Linked DNA regions of Homo sapiens: all the other regions are reported to be linked to region 1. The links are microRNA targets in miRTarBase. Many come from high-throughput screens and were not tested one by one. Region 1 holds a microRNA gene; each other region holds the end of a gene's coding sequence.
Evidence for each region. Region 1 holds the annotated microRNA hsa-miR-216a-3p (UCACAGUGGUCUCUGGGAUUAU, at 3,760-3,781, shown strand). A microRNA usually pairs through its seed, bases 2 to 8, with sites in the 3' UTR of a target mRNA and lowers its output. Matches are read on the target gene's strand: a 7mer-m8 pairs with bases 2 to 8, a 7mer-A1 pairs with bases 2 to 7 and ends in A, and an 8mer does both.

Region 1 (8,395 bases):
GGAAGCTCAGCTCAATGGCAGTTCCGGCTTTGGCTTTGGACTCGACACCCACTTATGCACACTATGACTCAAATTCCCTTCTCGTAATGCCTTATCTCTAGACACCACTCTCCATGAATCCCTTTCCCTGTTCGTAATCACTTCTAATCCTCATGTTCCTCTGTCTGACCTTCTTTTCCCACAAAAATCCAGAAAGTATGCACTTAATAAACAAACAAATCCATTGACAAAGATAGATGTATTCAGGGCAGCTTTACCAAAATTCAAACTGGTATTTAACACAATTCCAGCCAAAATGCTCATTTGTAACTCCAGCCAACTATTTTATTGAAATCAATTTGAAGCCAAACATTTTCCAAATGCCTACAAGGCTGCAAAAATAATAAATAATGTTTGGCTATTTTTCAAACCTTGGAGGATACAGAGTCCCAGTCCCAGAAATAACAAAAAGACAAGGTGAAAGGAAGCAGACTTGAAAAGAGTTATTGCTTGGATAGTGACTCTCAACCAGAAATCAAAGAGCAGAAGTTCATTTAGGGAAACTTCAGGTAGTTATCATAACTGCTAGGAAATTAGGATACAGAAGAGAGTAACATTGAGTGGATTCTCATGGGTCCTCTCATCTACCAGCACTTTTTCAGTTGATTTATATAGATTTTCTACCTTTGTTTTGAGTTAATTTCCAAAAAGTAGGATGCAAAAGATACTCAAATATAACAAAATTAATACTACTTCAGCACTAGCTTGAGTTTGAGTATCCAAAGACCTGAGATGTTTCAGAATTCAAGGCTGAAGTTTGAGGGAGGACATGTCTCAGATGATGGAGAGAAAGAAGAGAAAACTGAATTGCAAATACAGCTTGTATCAACTCTAGATACCATAAGGTTCAGAGGAATCAATAACATCATGTAAACTCAGAAGCCCTTCAACTTAGAGATTGAGACATCTCTTGACCTATATACTAACTACCCTAGTACATTGGTAATAAACCAGTAATTCAAGCAAGATACAGAAATGGATATGAAAAAATTCTAGGAAGGAGGAAAATAACAAAAAAGACACAAGCATAAAAAATGAGTGGGATTTGGATAACATTTGTAAACTCTAGAGGTGGAAGATTTGTAAAACTAACAGAAAAAGTAATTGAGTTAACCAAAGGACATAGGAGTAAAATTAAAACAAAATAAAATTAGCATTTATGGAGAATCTGTGTATCAGATTCTGTACTAGTTAGACATTTTCACAAACACCACATTTAGTTCTTAATCTCATGCACAAGTATTACCAACACAGAAACTGAGGCTCCAAGAAATAAAACAATTTGCCTTAAAGCCCACAGGTAGTTAAGTATTAGAACCAGGAGTCACACCAAGGTCCACTTCACTCCAAAGCTCATGTGCTTCCCGACACCCCACACACCATTCCACAGCCAAGATAGCTGCAGGAAGGGGTAGTCCTCCAGGTTTTCAGAAGATATCCAAATAATTACAGCTTTGAATAAATAACACTAGTCTTCAGGGAAATAGGAAAATTGCCACCATCTGAACAGACCCAATGACCAAACTGAAATTTATTACTCTCAAATACAAATCTATAGAGAGTCTCTAACAGAACTAAGATCACAAATGCATACATTGCGGTGCACCCAAAATATGCATATAGAGACATCTTAGATAATATCCTCAGAATACTTGAACAGAATGTATAGATAGTGTTAGAAACAGCTTACTCCTTGATACTTTGCTACTGTATTTCAGTTTATCTGGCCTGTGGACTATCTATCCACATTAATATAGCTTTGTTGCCAAAACAACTTTGTATCAGTTTCTTCCTTTTTCTTTTTTAAATGCCCATCACAGCAACCCACTAAGGTAGGCAAGGCAGAAACGTATATGTCTTTGCTTCCATTGAGAGCCCACCTCCCTGTGCAGTTGTGGACATGACAACTTAAGATTAATAAAAAGCTGTCTCATCTTCCACATCAGCATATGATGTTCCCATTTATGATCTTTTCTTAATGTTTTCTAGCAGAGGGAAGAAGAACTACATACTCCTGTCACTTCTCTATGGTAACTTTTCACTATTAAACTTTCTAGAGAGAAAGGAAAATCAAATATAAGATTAAGAGAAAAGAAAAAACTGAACGTCATTCATGTTGCTCTGAGAAGCCCTTGTTTTTTGATTAAGATAAAATCTGCTTATTTTTAATCCTGAGCAATTTGACTCCAGAAAATAAACTTAGAACAATATTTAAAAAGTTAAATCCTAATGATGAGACATTCTTATTTTACAAAAGTAGCTTTGTACTTAGGAGTCCATATGAGGCACAAGATTATATTCAATTGTTCTTTCTCAATTGTTTTGTAACTTTATATTTACCTGACTTTTAAAACGAAAAGCCACTTTTCTAACTCTGTAAATTACCACTCTCTTAATTGTGTCAAGTCTCAATTATTAAAGGACAAGTTATGAGCTGAAATCCATAATTCTTTGCTTCAACAAACATTTGATTTAGTTTGACAAAATTTTTTTGAGCACTTATTAAACATCAGATGCTAAACTGAGAATAGTATAGTTGAGGATATAGAGATGAATAAGCACAGTGCCAACACTTGGAAGTTTGCAGTCAATGAAGGAGAAAGCATGTGAGTGAGAAAACACCATTGTGTATTACAGGTGCCAAAAAAGGGAGACTGGGGAGAGAAGGCAGTGTGTGATAGTTTTCAATGTGTGACTGTCACACAAGGGGGTGTGTGTGTGTGTGTGTGTGTGTGTGTGTGTGAAAGAGAGAGAGAGGAGGGAGAGAGAAAGAAGAAATAATTCCAAGTATGGGCAAACACAGCTCATTGGATTCTCAGAACTTGTTAGAGCTGGAGTCTACAATGTAGAGGAAGAAATGGTCTAGTATGAAGTGAAGCTGGAGAAAGGCAGTGGAAAATCTCCACCGAAGTGCAAATCGCAGCCACCAAAACCAGACCTACTGAATCAAAATATAGAGGTAGGTCCTGGGGATCTACATTTGTAACAAGTTTCCTATGTGCTTCTTACACTCACTCAAGTTGAGATGCCATCCACGGCAGATGGTGGGGAAACTCTGAGGGCGTTTCCTCTTCCTTCCGTTCTTAATCATTATTCTTACCATTGATTAGCCCCACCCAGTGGACTGAGGGGCTTAGATCATGGCTCAGTCTCACTTAGCCATGACAGTGATGTGGGCAAGAGGGGAGGACATACCACCATCTATGAAAGGTAATAGCCACCGCTATTGACACATCTGGCCATTTGGTGAGTATACGGTCATTACTTTTTCAACGTAATTGCTGGTTTTCTTGTCTGAGGACAAATTTTAGAGTGTTTGGCTTTGATGTTTCCAAGTTCTCTATAAAGCTTGTTTAAAAAATCATTTTTAGTGATTGGTTTTACATTCACCTGTACTCCTACTTGGCTGTTTCTTACTATATATGGATTAGAGTAAATCCTTTCTAAATGCAAAGATTATACTTTTATGACATTACATGCAATATAGCATATGCCAGAAATCTGTGAATTCAGCAAGAGGAGTAGCTTGATAATGTCGCCTCAAGAAAAATGCAGAGGGGTACATCAGGGCTTCTGCTGGTGCACTCGATGTATGAAGATGTGCTTCCACCTGAGGCAGCCACGTGCCTCTGCTCATACACTTTCTCTTGCAGGTCTAACACGGATGGCTGTGAGTTGGCTTAATCTCAGCTGGCAACTGTGAGATGTTCATACAATCCCTCACAGTGGTCTCTGGGATTATGCTAAACAGAGCAATTTCCTAGCCCTCACGAATCAAAAGACTTGCATGGCAACCAAAATTAAACACCAAATTTCTATTTCATGACCAAGACGGGGGGAAAAGTTTCGATGGTTACTGTTTCATGCTCAACCTCTTTTAATCTTAGTAAAGTCTTTTTCTAAAGTGCTGTTGTGCTGGAAAGGAAACCAGCCTTGGGAATTAATTTGCCTTTATTGGATTCGCTTGCTACTTACTGCGCTCCTTCAGTGCTACTTGGTTTTTTAAAAAATTGCAGCCAAGGGAGTTTGGGTGTTAGAAGCTGAACCCAAAATATTTTCCCTCTGAAAGCTCCTCCCACTCTCTTTGTGGGTGCTACTCCATCAAATTCCAAACAGTCTAAAAGAGGACGATCTCCTGCCAGGCCCTCCTCAAACTTCAACTCCCCAGATTATCACATTTAATCGCCCTTCCTCATTCCTTCTGTAAGTGTTTCACATTCATCTGCCCTAAATAATATTGAAATTTAGAATCAACTATGGCTTAGGCTGAGGTTGCCATGAAACTTTTGAGCTGTACCCAACTCTAATTCTCGGTGATCCCTGGAAACAGATAATCCTTTTCCATAAAAAGAATAAGAACAAATGTAATTCTTCAGGGTGAAAAATCAAGGCCAGTTATCTTCCTCATTCACCCAGTAACACAAAACAAATCAGATGAACCAAATTTATAATTAAATGTGGGATAACTTTAACAACAAAAATTATTAAAATGCTATTTCCAAGGTCTTGACTGGCACATATCCCCTCAGGTATCCTCAGAAAGAGAAGTCTGTATATCTCAGTTTGATTAAATTACATTTCTGGGCCGGGCGCAGTGGCTTACGCCTGTAATCCCAGCACTTTGGGAGGCTGAGGCAGGCGGATCATGAGGTCAGGGGATCGAGACCATCGTGGCTAACACGGTGAAACCCTGTCTCTACTAAAAATACAAAAAATTAGCTGGGCATGGTGGCGGGCACCTGTAGTCCCAGCTACTCAGGAGGCTAAGGCAGGAGAATGGAGTGAACTCAGGAGGCGGAGGTTGCAGTGAGCCAAGATTGCGCCACTGCACTCCAACCTGGGCGACAGAGCGAGACTCTGTCTCAAAAAAAAAAAAAAAAAAAATTACATTTCTGTATCAAGGCACATTAGTATGACCTATTAGATTTCCTTGCCAGAAATTGATGTTGAGCAGTAGGAGGTAAGTTTGAGAACTAGTTATTCACATACTAATAGCACAAATACTGAACCATAAGCCAGGAAATAACTTACCTCTGGTAAGGAGAGGGCTTCGTATTAATTTTCAGGACTCATTAAGGGCTCTTTTAAGCTGCTGCTGAAACTTTCTAAATGTTGTCTGTATCCTCCTGCTAGTTGAAATAATCATTTTTTCAAACATGAAAAAATTCCCAATTCCAATTTTTGGTGACCATTTTTCAAAAAGGGAAGAAGATAAATGTAATTAAACAGAGCAGGAAATATTTTTTGAAGAGCTGAGTACATATGATGCATCAGGAACCATGCTTGTTGCCTTGCTTGTGTGTACACTCAGTGCACTCTTGCAGTCTCCAGATGTTCCCAGTGCTCTCTGCACATAGAGGCACAGGGAGCTTTTGAAAATGTCAATATCAAGGGCTGTGCCACTGATAAATCAGAATGCCTGGGATGGGATCTGGGCATCTCTGTTTAAGAGGCACCCAGGGGATTGTAATGTGCAGCCAAAGGTGAGAATCACTGTATTTGAGCTCAACAGGGAAGCTGTGGTTGGAGTGCAGTGAGAAAAACTGGAAGGAGAGGATTAGAGGGTATAGCTAGGTAGACTATGGTAAGAATTTGGGGTTTTAGTGTGAGGGACTCCACAAGCAATTGGAGAGTTTTAATTAAAGAAGTGGCATGACTTATTTACCAGTAACACAGTTTAATAGACTTTTCTTAGAATCTAACCATGTATAAACTTTAAAGAAAAATAGTTATTGTGGACTGCAAATAACTTCCTTGTCATTTAACTTTAGGAATGTAAGACCACAGGATAGGCAGATTCCAACCAAGAGGAAAGCTAGTATGAAAGAACAAAAAGGAAATTAGCTCAGAAATCAGGAGCCCCAACTCCTTTAGGCAACAGCTTGAGTCACTGTTTCAAGAAAAAAAGAAAATCACTTATCCTTTCAACACATAGATTCTGACTTTTCTTTTAAAGCTTAATAATTTTAGAATTACATCCTGGTAGTAATTAGCATCAAAATAAGTGAAGGATTTGGCATCTCTGTCAATGAGACATTCAAAATATCATTTGTTAGACTGGGTTTATGCCAGTCTTCAGTAAAAATAGAGTACAACAGGATTCCCACCCTTTTAGTAAAGAGGCTCTGTCTTGCTGATGACCGAAGACCTTGTTAGGGCTCCTGGGAACTAAGTCCTCAGCATTCCTAGCTCATCATCTCATTCACCAGCACCTAGAGCGTGGCACTTATTATCCCTTTTCCACCTGTACCATGAAGACTATGAAAGTCAAGGTGCAAGCAGCCGGCCTCTTAATCAGAGCAAACAAGCAGAACCTACTGCCAGTCCGCAGGACTAGACCTTAGATGTCTGCTGAATCTGTGATCCTGAGCTTTTGTTGAAAACCTGAATTATATTTCTGCCTGGTAAAGATGGCCCCAGGCTCCAAATGTTTGTCTTCTGTGGAAATCCAGATTAGAGTTTTCTGTGGCCCTCCCCCATGCTGTACCACTAAATGATGAACACTTATTGAATGCCCAGAAAGTCCCACTTTTCCCTCCTTTGGCAGCCTGCCCTCAGCCCAACCAAAACAATAGCAAAACAAAATAAACAAAAATGGCTTCTGTTTTTAATGATCACTGCAAGATTCACCATGAAACTCCTATAGATGAGTCTCTATAACCGTCTTATCCAAGCCAGAGCTGTCTATCATTAAGGTAGAGCAGGACAGAAAGAGCTTTTCTGGTTACAGACTTAATTCTGTATCAGATAAGTCCCCTCAGGATCCGTAACCCTGCAAGGTACCCAATTTGGGCTCGTCACCTGGCATGGACATACCAGGAGGATCTCTCTGGAAAAACTCTTGAAATACCCTGGAAAGGGTGATCCTCTGCTTTTTAGTTATATTATACACACCTCAATTACTGGGAAATACTCTTCAGCATATACAATGCTCTAAAGATTGCTCAAAACTGTGACCTGAATTTTAGGATTCTGTTTTATAGTGGCCAATCTCAGTTGTATTGCTTACTATCATTTTGCATTGTCTACAGGCATGTTAGTTATATTTCCAAACTCAAGTAGTGATTAGTTGGCCAGAGAAAAGCAGAGTTTCTGTTCTGTGATTTCTCTGCGGTGAAAGGAAATGAAAACAGGAAGTTACAAATGTACTCCTTAAAGACCTATAATAATATAGTGACATTCAACAAGCAACATTCTTGAACTACAATAATTACTAGGACTTGAACTTCTATAGGTGCTCAATTCTGGCCTTTTTCCTTCTAGATCATCACATTCACTTACCAAGGTCCTGTTTGAGATCACCTGTTTCCAATAACTCAAATAGTCTCTGCCTAGGGTAGGGCACTGGTTCTAAAATTATGGCCCCTGGACCATATCACTAGAGAAGTTGTTAAAAATGCCAATTCTTGGGCCCCATCCCAGATTTACTAAATCAGAGACTCTAGGTGTGGGTCTCAGCAATCTATATTTTAACAAGCCTGTGGATTATTGCTCAACTTTGAGAGCCACTGGCCTAGAGGACCTTTTCACCCACCTTGATGAATCTCTCCTTCCCCATCTGATTCCCTGCAGTAGTTTGTAAGGAAAGATGACATTTTAATATCCAGTCATCCCAGCCAACTGTATCCCAGTCCTTGGGACTTTAAAACTTGCAGTCTTATGCTGGACACTCCAGATAATAGCCAAAAGAAGCCTAAAATTATGACAAGACTCCTGCCCTGTTATTTTTAATTAATGACACTACCTGAGGAAGATCACATAGAGCATATTTGCAACAATCAAATCTTAAGAAAGCCTATTCTTCACCTACTTTCACTATCTTATCACAATTCATCCCAGCACACAAATGACACAATACAAACTGGTTTCCCAATCACCACAAGAGTTGTTAACCCAAGTCCCTAATCTGTCAAATCTTGCTGCAAAACTCAGAAACTATAACTACAGAGAGACAATACTAACTAGAGGGGAACATCATGATGAACTGGCTTCTCAGGTGCTCCTCCTGGGGTTCCTTCTCCAGTAAGGAGTCTTTAGGTTTTCTAAGACCACTCTGCTTACAAGTCTTTGGCTTCATTTGAATACCCTTTAGAAAAGATATACAGATTTTAGGGAAATGTCTGGTAAACAATTGAGATACTGTATTTGATCACATATAAGACCTCTAGAGAGAGAAACAATAAGCTAGAAATTATGTCCCTAAGATACTTTAATGTACTCCAAATTTTCACTATCTGTAAAATGAAAATATGATTAACCTTAACTCTCAAGCCTATTTGGAATCCAGATAAATGAGACAGAAAGCCAAAAGTGGATTCTTCAGTCTCCATTTCTATGATCTTCACCTCTCAGCTCC
Region 2 (7,000 bases), not on the chromosome of region 1:
GAAACTTGAAAATAATTTTATTTTTTACCTTTACATGGTGTGTTCTAGACTACTGCATTATGACTACATAAACCTACCTGAGCTCTTACAAGTACAGAATTGTGAGACAGAGGTTTTGTGATGGAAAACATACACATAGGGAAAAATACCAAACTGAGCAATATAAATTTCACAGCTCACATCTTAGCCAGTACAAAGAAACTTTCACATGGGGTGAATATTATAATACTTGAATTTGAGACTTAATACTGTATATGAATTAATCATCCCACTGTAATAACTGACATCTTCAAATAGTTGGGCTTATGAAAAATTTGACTAAGACATTTTATTTTATACTTTATGTAAATGTGAAATAAGTTCTGGTCATATAAATATGTAGAATGCATGTGTGTGAACTCTATGAAGTGAAGTGTGGTGGCCTTTTATGTTTCAGAGTACTCAAGTGTACAATTGATTTATATAAAAATGCAAAATGAACTCAGGTCATTTTGAAATTAATATTAATATTTTTGTTGTTTAACTTTAAAGCTAGCTCCCCTAACTTTATATATTTTTTGGGAAAAAATACCTAAAAACCTCAGCCTACAAAGACTCTCAGAAATGCCAAAGATTTTCAAGGAAATTCATATTATATATTTCAAAAATGATTTATCAATGTTATCTACCAAAAGAAATAATTTTATTTTTCCCCTTTGGGGAGATATTATCCTCTAATATGAGAATCAGATCCCTAGATTCTATTTCTACCTATACTATTAAACTCAACCTTGAACCTGAGCTTGGTTGTTTCTGTGCCTTAGTTTCTCCACTCGTAAACAATTTCCTATAAAAATTGTTTAAACACCAACCAAAATTTACCATATGTATTCATTCTCTTGCCTTAAAGATCACTTCTTAACTTACATTTGGCTCTCACCCTCTAAAAATTTGTAGTTTGGAGAGTAACTGAAAGCACAATTTTAAGAAACATGTTTTCCTCACAAAATATATTGTAATCTGATTTTCCTATCTTGTATTCATGCAGAAAATTGGAGAAAATGTGTATTGTCTTGTGCCATTCTGCAATATGAATTTCTCAGGAAAAAGATGTTTCAATGGCAATACTTTCTTAAATAATTCAAGATGGGTGTGAGGACCTATCTTATTAGTTTAGTGCTGTGTTAACCATTTGTGAATTACTTCTTGTTTAAAGGAAGTTGTCAAAAAATTTTAAGATTCTAAATGGAATACACGAATAAAGTAAGCCTTAGAATAGAAACCTCACAAAAAGTTGTCATTTGCGGTTGATAATTAACATAGGTGTTTTATTCTCTCAACTCCTTAGTACCAGAGCCAAATACAATTTAGTTTTCAGAAATCTTATCAATATTGTTCTATTTACCTACTTATAAATCTGCAGATAACCACTTGAACCAGGCAAATACACTGAAGATAAAGGTTATTTCTTTTTTTAGCTTTGAATTTGTCATGACCATTTTAGTCTTGCAGATAGCAGGGCAGCCCCTTGGGGCAAGGATTTACTCTGGGAGGTACCGTTAAGAGCCTTCTTTCCCCCTTTGAAAGATCCTTTTACAATGTTAAAGTATACTAGTTGCAAGAACAAGCAGGATTTGCAGGTTGCTTTACCAGCATGAGTCTCATTTTTCTGGCTTAAAATCTGGGACTGTGAAATTATTCCATAGGAAAGTGAATGTTATTTTGCAGAATTAGCCTCTTACATAAAAGTATTTGTTGAAGTGTCTTTAAAATTGCTATCATGAGCAAAACTGGTTGCTGTAATGCTTGTTTTTCTGTATTTATTTACACATTAAATTCTTACAAAACAAAATGTGTTCGTTTGTTTTATAGTAAGATGTTTTATTTTGAACTTATTTAAATGTTTATTTGTTAGAGAAAACTAATTTGTTAATATAGATCTTAACTAGTAACTATTAAGCAGGGATGTTTGTTCCAAATATTCTTGAATAAACAATCACCACAAACAACAAAACTCTGGTTAATGATTATTCAAAAAAGTTGTTGTGAGATGGGCATGCTGGTCTGTGCCTATAGTCCCAGCTACTCGGGAGGCTGAGGTTGGAGAATTATTTGAGCTCAGGAGGTCAAGGCTTCAATGGGCCAAGAGGAGGCTGAGGTGGGAGGACTGCTTGAGCCCAGGAGGTCGAGGCTTCAGTGAGCCAAGATGGCAACACACACACACACACACACACGAGTTATGATAACTTAAGAGATTTGGCAGACAATATAATTTAGTGTGATCATTCATGCTTGGGCTGACTTATAGTGGATACCAGAGAATGTTAAGACATTCAGAAGATTCTTTTTAAACTTTTCACTTCACTACCTTCAAATGTACAGTGTCGATGGCTTTGCCTTTACATGGTTAAAATCTCAAGCCCGTGTGGTGGCATGTGCCTGTAGTCCCGGCTACTTGGGAGGCTCACATGGGAGGATCAGTTGGCCCCAGGAGTTCGAGGCTGCAGTGAACCATCATGCTATTGCACTCCAGCCTGGGCAACAGAGCAAGAGCCTGTCTCCAAAAAAAAATTTAAAAAAACCTCTGTAGTAAAAATTACTATTTATTAAAAAAAATTAACACAATATTAAGATCAAGATGCATTTGAAAATGGAAGAAAAAAATCAGGGTTTATACACATTCCTCCATTAAATAAATAAAAGCTCCAAAGAACTTTCTCAATTTTTCTGCTAATAATCTTTTAAACAGTATTCTTGAGGTTGTTTTATAATAAATTAAAATCACATATAAAGAGAGCAGGTTATAATCTATAGATAATGACTCATCTACAACTTCATAGCAATTCCTGGACCATGCCTTACCAGATCTTACCCTGAGGAAAATCTCCCAAAGAACATTCATCTAAAATATTTCATCTATGTCTTACAAATAATCCAAGGTATTCTGCTTCACTGTAGCAAATAAGAAATCTGAATTGGTAAACCTTTGGCAATCTGCTCTATCTTACATAATATCTCTATATTAGATAGTTTGAAAGTGGAGAAAAGCTTTGCTTTATTCAATTAAATTCACTGGCTTCCATTTTAGATTGAATAAGAGAAACTTTATTACATGTTGGAGATCTTTCAAAATATGAAAAATAAGGGGCAAAAAATTTTAAAAACTGGTTTTACAGATACACATGCTAACAATGTTCTACAGTTACATTTGTATAAAATACATTATACAAAAGATTTATAGATTTTGCATACATAAAAATTAAAGCATTCAGATATTTCTATGATCTAACAGTGCAATATGCACATACGTGGAAGAAAATACTGATTACCTGAGCAACATTTTTGTAATGCAAATTAAAAATGAATCCATCAGTGCACCATTTAAATACAGACTTTAAAAAACTCCACCTTTACCCTGTAACACTGACTAGATCCTTGCTTCATGATATTTCTAAAACTAAGCATATCCTTCATATTTTCAACTAGGTAATTTTAGAAGTAGATACTTTAAAAAAGAACTAATTACTAAGTAGTGGTTCATTTAAATAACTCTTCAGGACACTGAACCAAGCAGGTAGAGTCCAGGAAAAGAAAAGCTGTAAATAAAAAGTCCTTTGGAGGAGATAATTTAACATGAGTCTTCTAATTTTTAATGTGGCCAGCAGAGTGTGTAACCATTTTTAACATATCTTTTGAAAATATGAACTCCATAACTTCCTAGGAGTGAGATAGCAAAGAAATTTTATTTTAACCGAGACTTCATAAAACTATCAGCTTTTTGTTTACTTGCTAACTCCAAAATTTTAAGTAAACCAAATGCAATGATTCTGCTGTTACTTTTACATTGCATACAAGTACATGCGTGCACACATGCAGACACACACACAGACACACATGTAAAGCAACAAATTCAAAGAAGGGTGTCAACACAATTAAAATCCATAATGTTAAACAATAACTGTGCTTGTTAGTTATACAAGGTAATTTGCATTTGATATAAACTTAACTTACATTAGTACTTTTTAGAAACTAAAATTATTCCAAATGTATTAAATGCTTAGAAAATTCATTTCTTTCCTAAACAGATTAGAACCATAATTCAATATGTAACCTTTATATAGAATTATATGTAACTCAAATTATATTCAATTAATTCAAATATATAATTTAAATACAGAAAAAAGAAAACTACCTGATGTGTTATAAGGATGTATATTTCCTTCAAAAAAGGATACTCTGCAAGACAAATGATTTTTAATCAACAAATACACAGCACACCTTATTCCTTTAAAAAATAAGTTACATATTTTGGAAATCGAACCCATAACAATTTCAAAGTACAACTAGCAAAAAAAGTAAGGAATCACTGACTGTAATTTCATCAATTTGATGTAAACAAAGTTCTTCAAAGGACACCTGGCCTGTTTACCCTAAAATAATCTGCATTTTCTTCCTTAAAACCTCATTTTTCAGCAGACTTAATAAATACAATGTAAAATGACCAGTTAACACTAAGCATAAATTATATCACACTCTTCTTTTCAAGATGCCCAAGGCACATTAAAACTACTTTTTAAATGTTTAATTTACTAAGAGAATCATTTGCAACTTCCCTATTAAACACTTTTTGGTAATTGTCTAAGGTCCTCTAATATTTGCAAGGGCTTTAATGTTTGACTTCTTTGTCCTGTCTTTTCCTGATGGTCTTCTCCTGAAAGTACATAAAACTGCATTTGCCATAAATATTTACTTATTCTGAGTTAAATTTGAAATATATAAAATGACTTATCAAAAGCCTGAAACATCAACAATTAGGAAATAATGCCCAGAAAATGAGGTGGTATTATATATCTTAAGTATATATTATATACAAAACAGGCAATCCAGACTCCACCAAATCTCATTTCTATTGAAGAATCATTCTGGTTACATTTTTAAAACACATACTTTTAAAGATTAAATGATGGAATCAGTATGCAAATGCTTCTTACTTAGCCAGACTGTAGCCGACTCAACAGATCTTAAAAAGAGGCACTACCACCCCCTTTCAAGCAATCTATACACCTTTGGCCTTTGTTTCCCAATTTGATGCTATATATAGAGATCAGGAAAAAAGTCTAAATTGGATATTTTCTCTTTGAAAAACAGAGGTTAAGGGATTACTAAATAATTTGTCTGTTACTGCTAATATAAAATACCTCTACTCTTTTTTGCTTAATGAACCATTTTCTTCAACAGACCTCAAAGGCAGTTTTGACCCAATTATTTGTGCTTGATGGTGAAAATGGAGACAAATTTATATAGCCTATGTAACGAATCTGATTGGACCATATGAAATAATGCTTATTTTTAATTCTGAAACTTGGATTTACTTACATAAAGCAGTAAGGCATTAAATGTAATTAAGGCATGTTACTGTATGTAACAGCAATGATTTATCACAGTATATAAGGAATTATTTCCTAAATAATGGTAATATGCACGTTTAATATATTTTTCATCATCAAAACTACAAAAGTGCTTTCAAATATCAGAGGCAAATATAATCATTTTAAAAACAGATGCACAGAGGTGAGGTTAAAGGGTCTGTCCTAAAGAAAGCATTCTTAAGACAAAAATTACTGTCAGGTCTTCACCTATTCCAGTGTTCTACTGACTTCCCAACCATAATACATTATTTTGGGGTCTTGAAAATATTTTAATCTATTTCTTGGCCTCTGTTGTAGGAATTATAAATCACTTTCCCCTTTCTCTTTGTACGTATGCTTTCATAGCACATGTGCTAAATGTATTTTTTAAAAGTTTTGAAGGGGTGTGTTACGTATCCTACCATGAATAATTTTAGAATCAAATTTTCTTGCAACTGAATATTTTGGGGGTTCATAGTAGTAAATTTTTTTCAGCTGCAGACATCTGATGCTATCATTCTGCATCATAAATTTAACATTAATAAACTTTTTAAAAATTACTTAAAAAAATAAAATTTAAACATGCATTTTAAGAAAAATGATACATCTTCCAAGTTAAGTACTTCCTAAACACACATTTAAATTAATTTCTGCTTGAAACATTCACACACCAGATTTATGGATCAACTGCTCTCAACATCAACAACTAGTTGCTCAAAAAATTTTCAAAGTGTGAAACCCTTTTGTTAAAAACAAAAGCATCCTCAATCTCTCTAAATTCTGCCTTTGAAGCTATTATTGGATATAACTGATTCACCACATTCCAGATGCACATGTGACCACTAACATTTGATTATGAGCTAATTGCTATGTTTCCTGTTGAGCAGCAGGTGACTGAGAATCTTGACTATACAGTTTATGATCATCTTGTTGGCTGAAATGTATTCCTTTAGTTGGCACAATTCCATTTTCCATTTCTCTCTGCTGTGATGGGGGTGTGATTTTTGAATGTAAATGTGAAGAGTCCACTGTTGAATGATGACTAACATCCACCTTAGCTAAAATTTCATAATACAACAAATAAAACACTGGTGTTATTATACCTACTATCAACATTATCACTACAGCTGTCCACCACCCTATTCCCCAGTCTGCTCCATAATAGGGGTCTTTACGTTGAGTGTTTTTGTTATCAGGTTCAAAACGCATTTGTTGTGCTGTTAAGGCCGATACTACCTCATTGAGGTTCTCTCTCTTATTGTCTGTACACTTTACTATTTGTTCTATGTCTCGGTCTACTTCTTTTAAAAAGCTACCAGCTGAGTCACTGTAAGCAAGAGAATCATTAGCTGGCAAAATTTCCTGTTGTTCGGAAGAGTATTGAACAGATGAATGACGTGAAGTCTGTCTTCCTTTTGGAGGACAAAGTGTTTCGGTCAAGGAACTGAACTTTTTTACTGGAATTTTGATAGACCTAAGGGCAAAAAAGTCTTGATCACTGATGAGATTGTTAACTCTCTTGATATCTGCTACCTGTGGGGGGGAAAAAAAAGCAACATACAACTGAATTCCAATCAAAATAAAGGCAGCAATAGTCATTCATTCTAGTTACT
Region 3 (7,000 bases), not on the chromosome of region 1:
TTTACTTTGTTCTAATTTTCTAGATGGTGATAGTAGCCTGGCTGCCTCAGAAAGAAAAGCTCTGCAAACAGAAATGGCACGTATCAAAAAGTGTAAGCTTTTTCTCTTACTCTCCAGGCAGCTTGAAGTTTGGGAAAAATAGAATGCAACAAATATTTGTTGAATGCATATAATTTTCTGTACCCTGCTAGGCATTTCTCATATTCTTACCTCATGAAATTCTCACAACATTTTGGTAGAAATGGAGGCAAAGGGAAGTTAAATTACTTGTTCAAATGCACAGAGCTAATAAATGGCAGGGGTGGTTTATAGATGGAAGTCAGTCTGACTCGAGAGACCCTAATCCTTTACCGTCTGATATTGCTCACTGAAAATGGGACTTATATCCCTTTGTTGCACTGGTATTGAGACCTGGCCGTGGGGTCTAACCTGCCTGGGGCAAATATTTTCAGACATTTTTTGTTTGGTCTCAAGTTAACAATTTAGAATTCAGAAGTCCAAATTATATGTCTTTTAGAATTCTGATCTGAAAGCACAGAGAGGCCTTTGTACCAGTCTGTCTGTTCACATTTGGGTTGCCATATTTAACAAATAAAAAGACAAAGCACCAGTTAAATTGGATTTCAGCTGAAAAACATTTTTAGTATAAGTGTGTCTGAAAAATTATATGGGAGATATACTAAAATATTCATTGTTTGTCTGAAATTCAAATTTAACTGGACATACTATATTTTATCCGGCAACTGTACTCTAGAAGACTTTTTCTTGAGAAATACCTTGAGTTGGGCTTAAGGATGAGTCAGTTTCACCCACTTTTTCACATTTTAGGGCTCACCTTCTCTCTGGGCAAACAAGTTGGGAACAAGTTCTTCCTGACCAATGGTGAAATAATGACCTTTGAAAAAGTGAAGGCCTTGTGTGTCAAGTTCCAGGCCTCTGTGGCCACCCCCAGGAATGCTGCAGAGAATGGAGCCATTCAGAATCTCATCAAGGAGGAAGCCTTCCTGGGCATCACTGATGAGAAGACAGAAGGGCAGTTTGTGGATCTGACAGGAAATAGACTGACCTACACAAACTGGAACGAGGGTGAACCCAACAATGCTGGTTCTGATGAAGATTGTGTATTGCTACTGAAAAATGGCCAGTGGAATGACGTCCCCTGCTCCACCTCCCATCTGGCCGTCTGTGAGTTCCCTATCTGAAGGGTCATATCACTCAGGCCCTCCTTGTCTTTTTACTGCAACCCACAGGCCCACAGTATGCTTGAAAAGATAAATTATATCAATTTCCTCATATCCAGTATTGTTCCTTTTGTGGGCAATCACTAAAAATGATCACTAACAGCACCAACAAAGCAATAATAGTAGTAGTAGTAGTTAGCAGCAGCAGTAGTAGTCATGCTAATTATATAATATTTTTAATATATACTATGAGGCCCTATCTTTTGCATCCTACATTAATTATCTAGTTTAATTAATCTGTAATGCTTTCGATAGTGTTAACTTGCTGCAGTATGAAAATAAGACGGATTTATTTTTCCATTTACAACAAACACCTGTGCTCTGTTGAGCCTTCCTTTCTGTTTGGGTAGAGGGCTCCCCTAATGACATCACCACAGTTTAATACCACAGCTTTTTACCAAGTTTCAGGTATTAAGAAAATCTATTTTGTAACTTTCTCTATGAACTCTGTTTTCTTTCTAATGAGATATTAAACCATGTAAAGAACATAAATAACAAATCTCAAGCAAACAGCTTCACAAATTCTCACACACATACATACCTATATACTCACTTTCTAGATTAAGATATGGGACATTTTTGACTCCCTAGAAGCCCCGTTATAACTCCTCCTAGTACTAACTCCTAGGAAAATACTATTCTGACCTCCATGACTGCACAGTAATTTCGTCTGTTTATAAACATTGTATAGTTGGAATCATATTGTGTGTAATGTTGTATGTCTTGTTTACTCAGAATTAAGTCTGTGAGATTCATTCATGTCATGTGTACAAAAGTTTCATCCTTTTCATTGCCATGTAGGGTTCCCTTATATTAATATTCCTCAGTTCATCCATTCTATTGTTAATAGGCACTTAAGTGGCTTCCAATTTTTGGCCATGAGGAAGAGAACCCACGAACATTCCTGGACTTGTCTTTTGGTGGACATGGTGCACTAATTTCACTACCTATCCAGGAGTGGAACTGGTAGAGGATGAGGAAAGCATGTATTCAGCTTTAGTAGATATTACCAGTTTTCCTAAGTGATTGTATGAATTTATGCTCCTACCGGCAATGTGTGGCAGTCCTAGATGCTCTATGTGCTTGTAAAAAGTCAATGTTTTCAGTTCTCTTGATTTTCATTATTCCTGTGGATGTAAAGTGATATTTCCCCATGGTTTTAATCTGTATTTCCCCAACATGTAATAAGGTTGAACACTTTTTTATATGCTTATTGGGCACTTGGGTATCTTCTTTTGTGAAGTACCCGTTCACATTTTTGTATTTTGTTTAAATTAGTTAGCCAATATTTTTCTTACTGATTTTTAAGTTATTTTTACATTCTGAATATGTCCTTTTTAATGTGTATTACAAATATTTTGCTAGTTTTTGACTTGCTCCTAATGTTGAATTTTGATGAACAAAATTTCCTAATTTTGAGAAAGTCTTATTTATTCATATTTTCTTTCAAAATTAGTGCTTTTTGTGTCATGTTTAAGAAATTTTTGCCCATCCCAAAATCATAAGATATTTTTCATGATTTTGAAACCATGAAGAGATTTTTCATGATTTTGAAATCATGAAGATATTTTTCCATTTTTTTCTAATAGTTTTATTAATAAACATTCTATCTATTCCTGGTAGAATAGATATCCACTTGAGACAGCACTATGTAGGAAAGACCATTTTTCCTCCACTGAACTAGGGTGGTGCATTTTTGTAAGTTAGGTAACTGTATGTGTGTGTGTCTGTTTCTGGGCTGTCTATTCTAGTCTATTTGTTGATGCTTGTGTCAAACAGTACACTATCTTAATTATTGTACATTTATAGTTGTAACTATAGTCCAGCTTTGTTCTTCTTAAAGTCAAGATTTCCATATAAATATTAGAAACAGCTTCTCAATTTCTACAAAATCCTGATGAGGTTTCTACTGGGACCACATTGAGTCTATCAATCAACTTATGCAGAACTGGCAACTTACTACTGAATCTCTAATCAATGTTCATCATGTATCGCTTCATGTAACTAGAATTTCTTTAACTTAATTGCTATGTTTTGACATTTTTAGTTTAAAAACCTTGTATATCTTGTTTTGGTGGTTTTAGTGATTTTAATAATATATTTTAAATATTTTTTCTTTTCTATTGTTGTACACAGAAATACAGTTAAGTTTTGTGTGTAGTCTTACGATGTTTAGTAAACTCAATAAGTTTATTTCTTAAATCTAGTAATTTGTAGATTCCTCTGGATTTTGTATATGCATAGTCATGTAAGCTGAAAATATGGCAATACTTGCTTCTTCCCAATTGCTTTACCTTTTTTCTTACCTTATTGCACTGGTTAGCAACCCCAATACAGAGACCACCAGATCAGGTATAGACTCCTGAAAGACAATATAATGAAGTGCTCCAGTCAGGCCTATCTAAACTGGATTCACAGCTCTGTCACTTAATTGCTACATGATCTAGAGCCAGTTACTTTGTGTTTCAGCCATGTATTTGCAGCTGAGAGAAAATAATCATTCTTATTTCATGAAAATTGTGGGGATGATGAAATAAGTTAACACCTTTAAAGTGTGTAGTAAAGTATCAGGATACTATATTTTAGGTCTTAATACACACAGTTATGCCGCTAGATACATGCTTTTTAATGAGATAATGTGATATTATACATAACACATATCGATTTTTAAAAATTAAATCAACCTTGCTTTGATGGAATAAACTCCATTTAGTCACATTTTATCTTGTGTATGTATTATTGGAGTGGACTTGTTAATAGTTTGTTTAGAACGTTTGCACCTATGTTCATGAGAGATACTAGCTTTTTTTCCCCTCCTTAATGCACTTGCTATGGTTTGGGGTCAATGTTATGTAAGCCTCATTAAAATGAGCTGTGATGTGCTCTCATGCTCCTTATTATCTAAAATAATTTGTGTAAAATTATACTTTAATGTTAGATAAATTCACCAGTGAAGCCATCTTGGAATGGTGTTTTCTGTTGGGAAATGATTTTAATTTCAGATTTAATTTCCTCATGATCTAAACCTATTCATGTTTTCTGTCTTTTGTTCGGTTTCAGTGAGTTATATTTTTCAATGAATGTGTCAATTTCCTCTGAATATATATGTATTGGCATAAAATTGTTACAATATCTTTGTATTTCTTTTCAATATAAGTAGGATCTATAGCAATGTCTATGTATCTGTTATGATTATTTGCATTTTATCTTTATTTTATTGTATTTTTTTTTGAGATGGAGTCTCACTCTGTCACCCAGGCTGGAGTGGCTGGAGTACAGTGGCACGATCTTGGCTCACTGCAATCTCTGCCTCCCAGGTTCAAGAGATTCTCCTGCCTCAGCCTCCCAGGTAGCTGGGATTACAGATGCCCACCACCATTCCTGGCTAATTTTTTTAATTTTTTGTGGAGACGAGGTTTCGCCATGCTGGCTAGGCTGGTCTCAAACCCCTGACCTGAGGTGATCTACCTGCCTCAGCCTCCCAAAGTGCTGGGATTACAGGCATGAGCCACTGTGCTTGGCCCATCTCTTTTTTTCTTAATCAATCTTGCAAAGGATTTGTCCATTTTATTAAATTTTTCCAAAAACTTCTTTTTGGTGTTTACTAACCTCTATGATTACATTTATTTATATCTGTTCCTGTCTTTATCATTTCTTGTATCGATCTTCTGTGGGTTTAATTGGCCATTCTTTTTCTAGCTTCTTTTAATTGACATTTAGAGAACTGATTTTCTTCCTTCCTTCTTTGCTAATATAATCATTTAAAGTTATAATTTTTATTTAAGAACTATTTCAGCTGCATACCACAGGTTTGGATATGTATCTTTTCCCACCAATTCAAAATAGGTTTTTCATATCCAATTCAAAATATTTTATAATTTTCATTGTGACTTCTTCGACTCATGGTTTATTTATAAGTGTGTGGTTTAATTCCTAAATATTTGAGTATTTTAAAAAGCTATACTCCTGTAAGTGATTTATAGTTTAATTCCACTGTATCCAGAAATATACTTTTATATGAGTTCAATCTTTTGAAATTTGTTAAGATTTTATTTTATGATCCAGTTTATGATTTAGAATGGTAAATGTATTATGTGCACTAGAAATAATGTGGTTTTTACAGTTGATTAGTGTATCATTAGGTCAGGATATGAATCTTCTTTGTATTTTCTGTATTCTCACTAATATTTTGCCCTTTTAGAAGGAAATAACAAAGATCAGAATAGAAATAAATGACATAGAGAGTAGAAAAGCAAATAGATCAATGAAACTCAAAAGTTAATTTTTGTGAAATGATACAATTTCCAAACTTTAGCTAAAATAACTAAGAAAAATACAGAGAAGACTCAAAATCAGAAATGAGAGGAGACACGACAACTGATAACATACAAGTACAAAGGATCATAAGAGCTACATTCCTTTGTGTTACATTGTTTTCTCTTTACATTCTGATTGTCTCTCGCTTGCTCGCTGTCTTCTTTTAAAGTTTTGTTTCAGAAGAACTAAAAAAATCTAGGTTTAAAATGTACAGATATCCTTTGTAACTTAGCATTAGGCAAAATTGTCTTAGAGAACTCAATTACTTTTCAAGTAAAAAATGATAAATTGAATTTCATCAAAATTAAAGATTAACTCAGTTTGTTAAACATTAGGAAAACAGGCAAACCATGACTAGGAGAAAAATATTTGCAAATATTGGCCTGCATCTGTCAAAGGATACATAGGATACAGAAACAACTGCTATAAGCCAGCAATAAAAAGACAGAACTGGGAAGGGATGGCCAGGGACCAAAGGAGAAGAAATGAAACACAGGATAGACCACCTTCAGTGTCCTTGGTCAGGAATTCCCATTCCTTAATGTTGTGGGCTAAATAGTGTCGCAAAAAAAAAAAAAAAAAAAAAAAATCTATGCAAGTCCTAACCACCAGGACTTATGAATGCACCCTTATGTGGAATTAGGGTCTTTACAGTTATGATAAAGACAAGGCGAGGCCACACTGGATTAGAGCAGGCCCTAATCCACTGACTGGTGTCCTTCTAAGAAGAGGGAAATTTGGACACGCAGTCACACAAGGAGAATGCTGTGTGATGAAGAAGGCAGAGAGTGGAGTGACACATCTTTAAGACAAAGACTGCCAAAGATTGTGGACAATACTGGTATCAGAAACTTCTGCCAACTTCTTCTGAAACGTCTGCCTACAAACTTGTTTTCTACTAAAATCGTCCATTCTATGAGAAAACACAGAATATGATGAACCATTCAGCCAGGAAACTGCTGCTAATTCCTCAGGGCTGTTTACCTATGATGGCCTATATCAGAAGCTAGGAGTGAGGCATAGAATAATATTCCTCAGAGCCTCCAGTAGGAACCAACCCTAGTGACACCTTGCTCTCAGACTTCTAGCCTCCAGCACTGTGTAAGAATAAATTTATGTTGTTTTAAGCCACCCAGTTTGTGGTAGTTTATTATGGAAGCCCTAGAAAACAAATACACTTGGCAGTGGAGACTCCTGTTGTGTATACTACAGTAGACTGAATTGTTCCCTGGAAAACATCCTTCTGAGCTTCAGTCTTATGATTGGGAAGACAGAAAAACAGAGAGAGAGAGAGAGAGAGAGAATGAATGAATGAATGAATTGAGATATTTTCATGTGCTTTCCAGGACCTCCATAAAAAGTCACTCTGCGGTCTGGGCTCACATCCCCACTGGGGGATTCATGAGGAGGGAGTGGGCTACTGTAGTGTGTGTGATTCAAAG

Region 2: miRTarBase lists LYSMD3 as a target of hsa-miR-216a-3p. Seed matches in the 3' UTR shown: 7mer-A1 at 5,418-5,424.
Region 3: the mRNA of MBL2 is a reported target of hsa-miR-216a-3p. The part of its 3' UTR that is shown has no 7-base or 8-base seed match.

The regions. Positions count from the first base shown.
Region 1 is chr2:55,984,367-55,992,761 of GRCh38, reverse strand. MIR216A (microRNA 216a) reads left to right here and starts at 3,703; the gene lies at 3,703-3,812. All of the region lies in intron 2 of MIR217HG (MIR217 host gene), which reads left to right. The region is part of intron 3 of LOC105374690 (a long non-coding RNA gene); the gene reads right to left. RefSeq lists enhancers at 7,223-7,312, 7,343-7,402.
Region 2 is chr5:90,512,565-90,519,564 of GRCh38, forward strand. It overlaps LYSMD3 (LysM domain containing 3), which reads right to left. Exons shown (of 3, transcript NM_198273.2): 3 at 3,062-6,920. The coding sequence ends at 6,255. It overlaps POLR3G (RNA polymerase III subunit G), which reads left to right. Exons shown (of 8, transcript NM_006467.3): 8 at 1-1,993. Among named protein-coding and RNA genes, the nearest start is that of LYSMD3, 14 kb to the right of the region's middle.
Region 3 is chr10:52,762,339-52,769,338 of GRCh38, reverse strand. MBL2 (mannose binding lectin 2) reads left to right here. Exons shown (of 5, transcript NM_001378373.1): 4 at 24-92; 5 at 829-3,959. The coding sequence ends at 1,202. Among named protein-coding and RNA genes, the nearest start is that of MBL2, 6.9 kb to the left of the region's middle.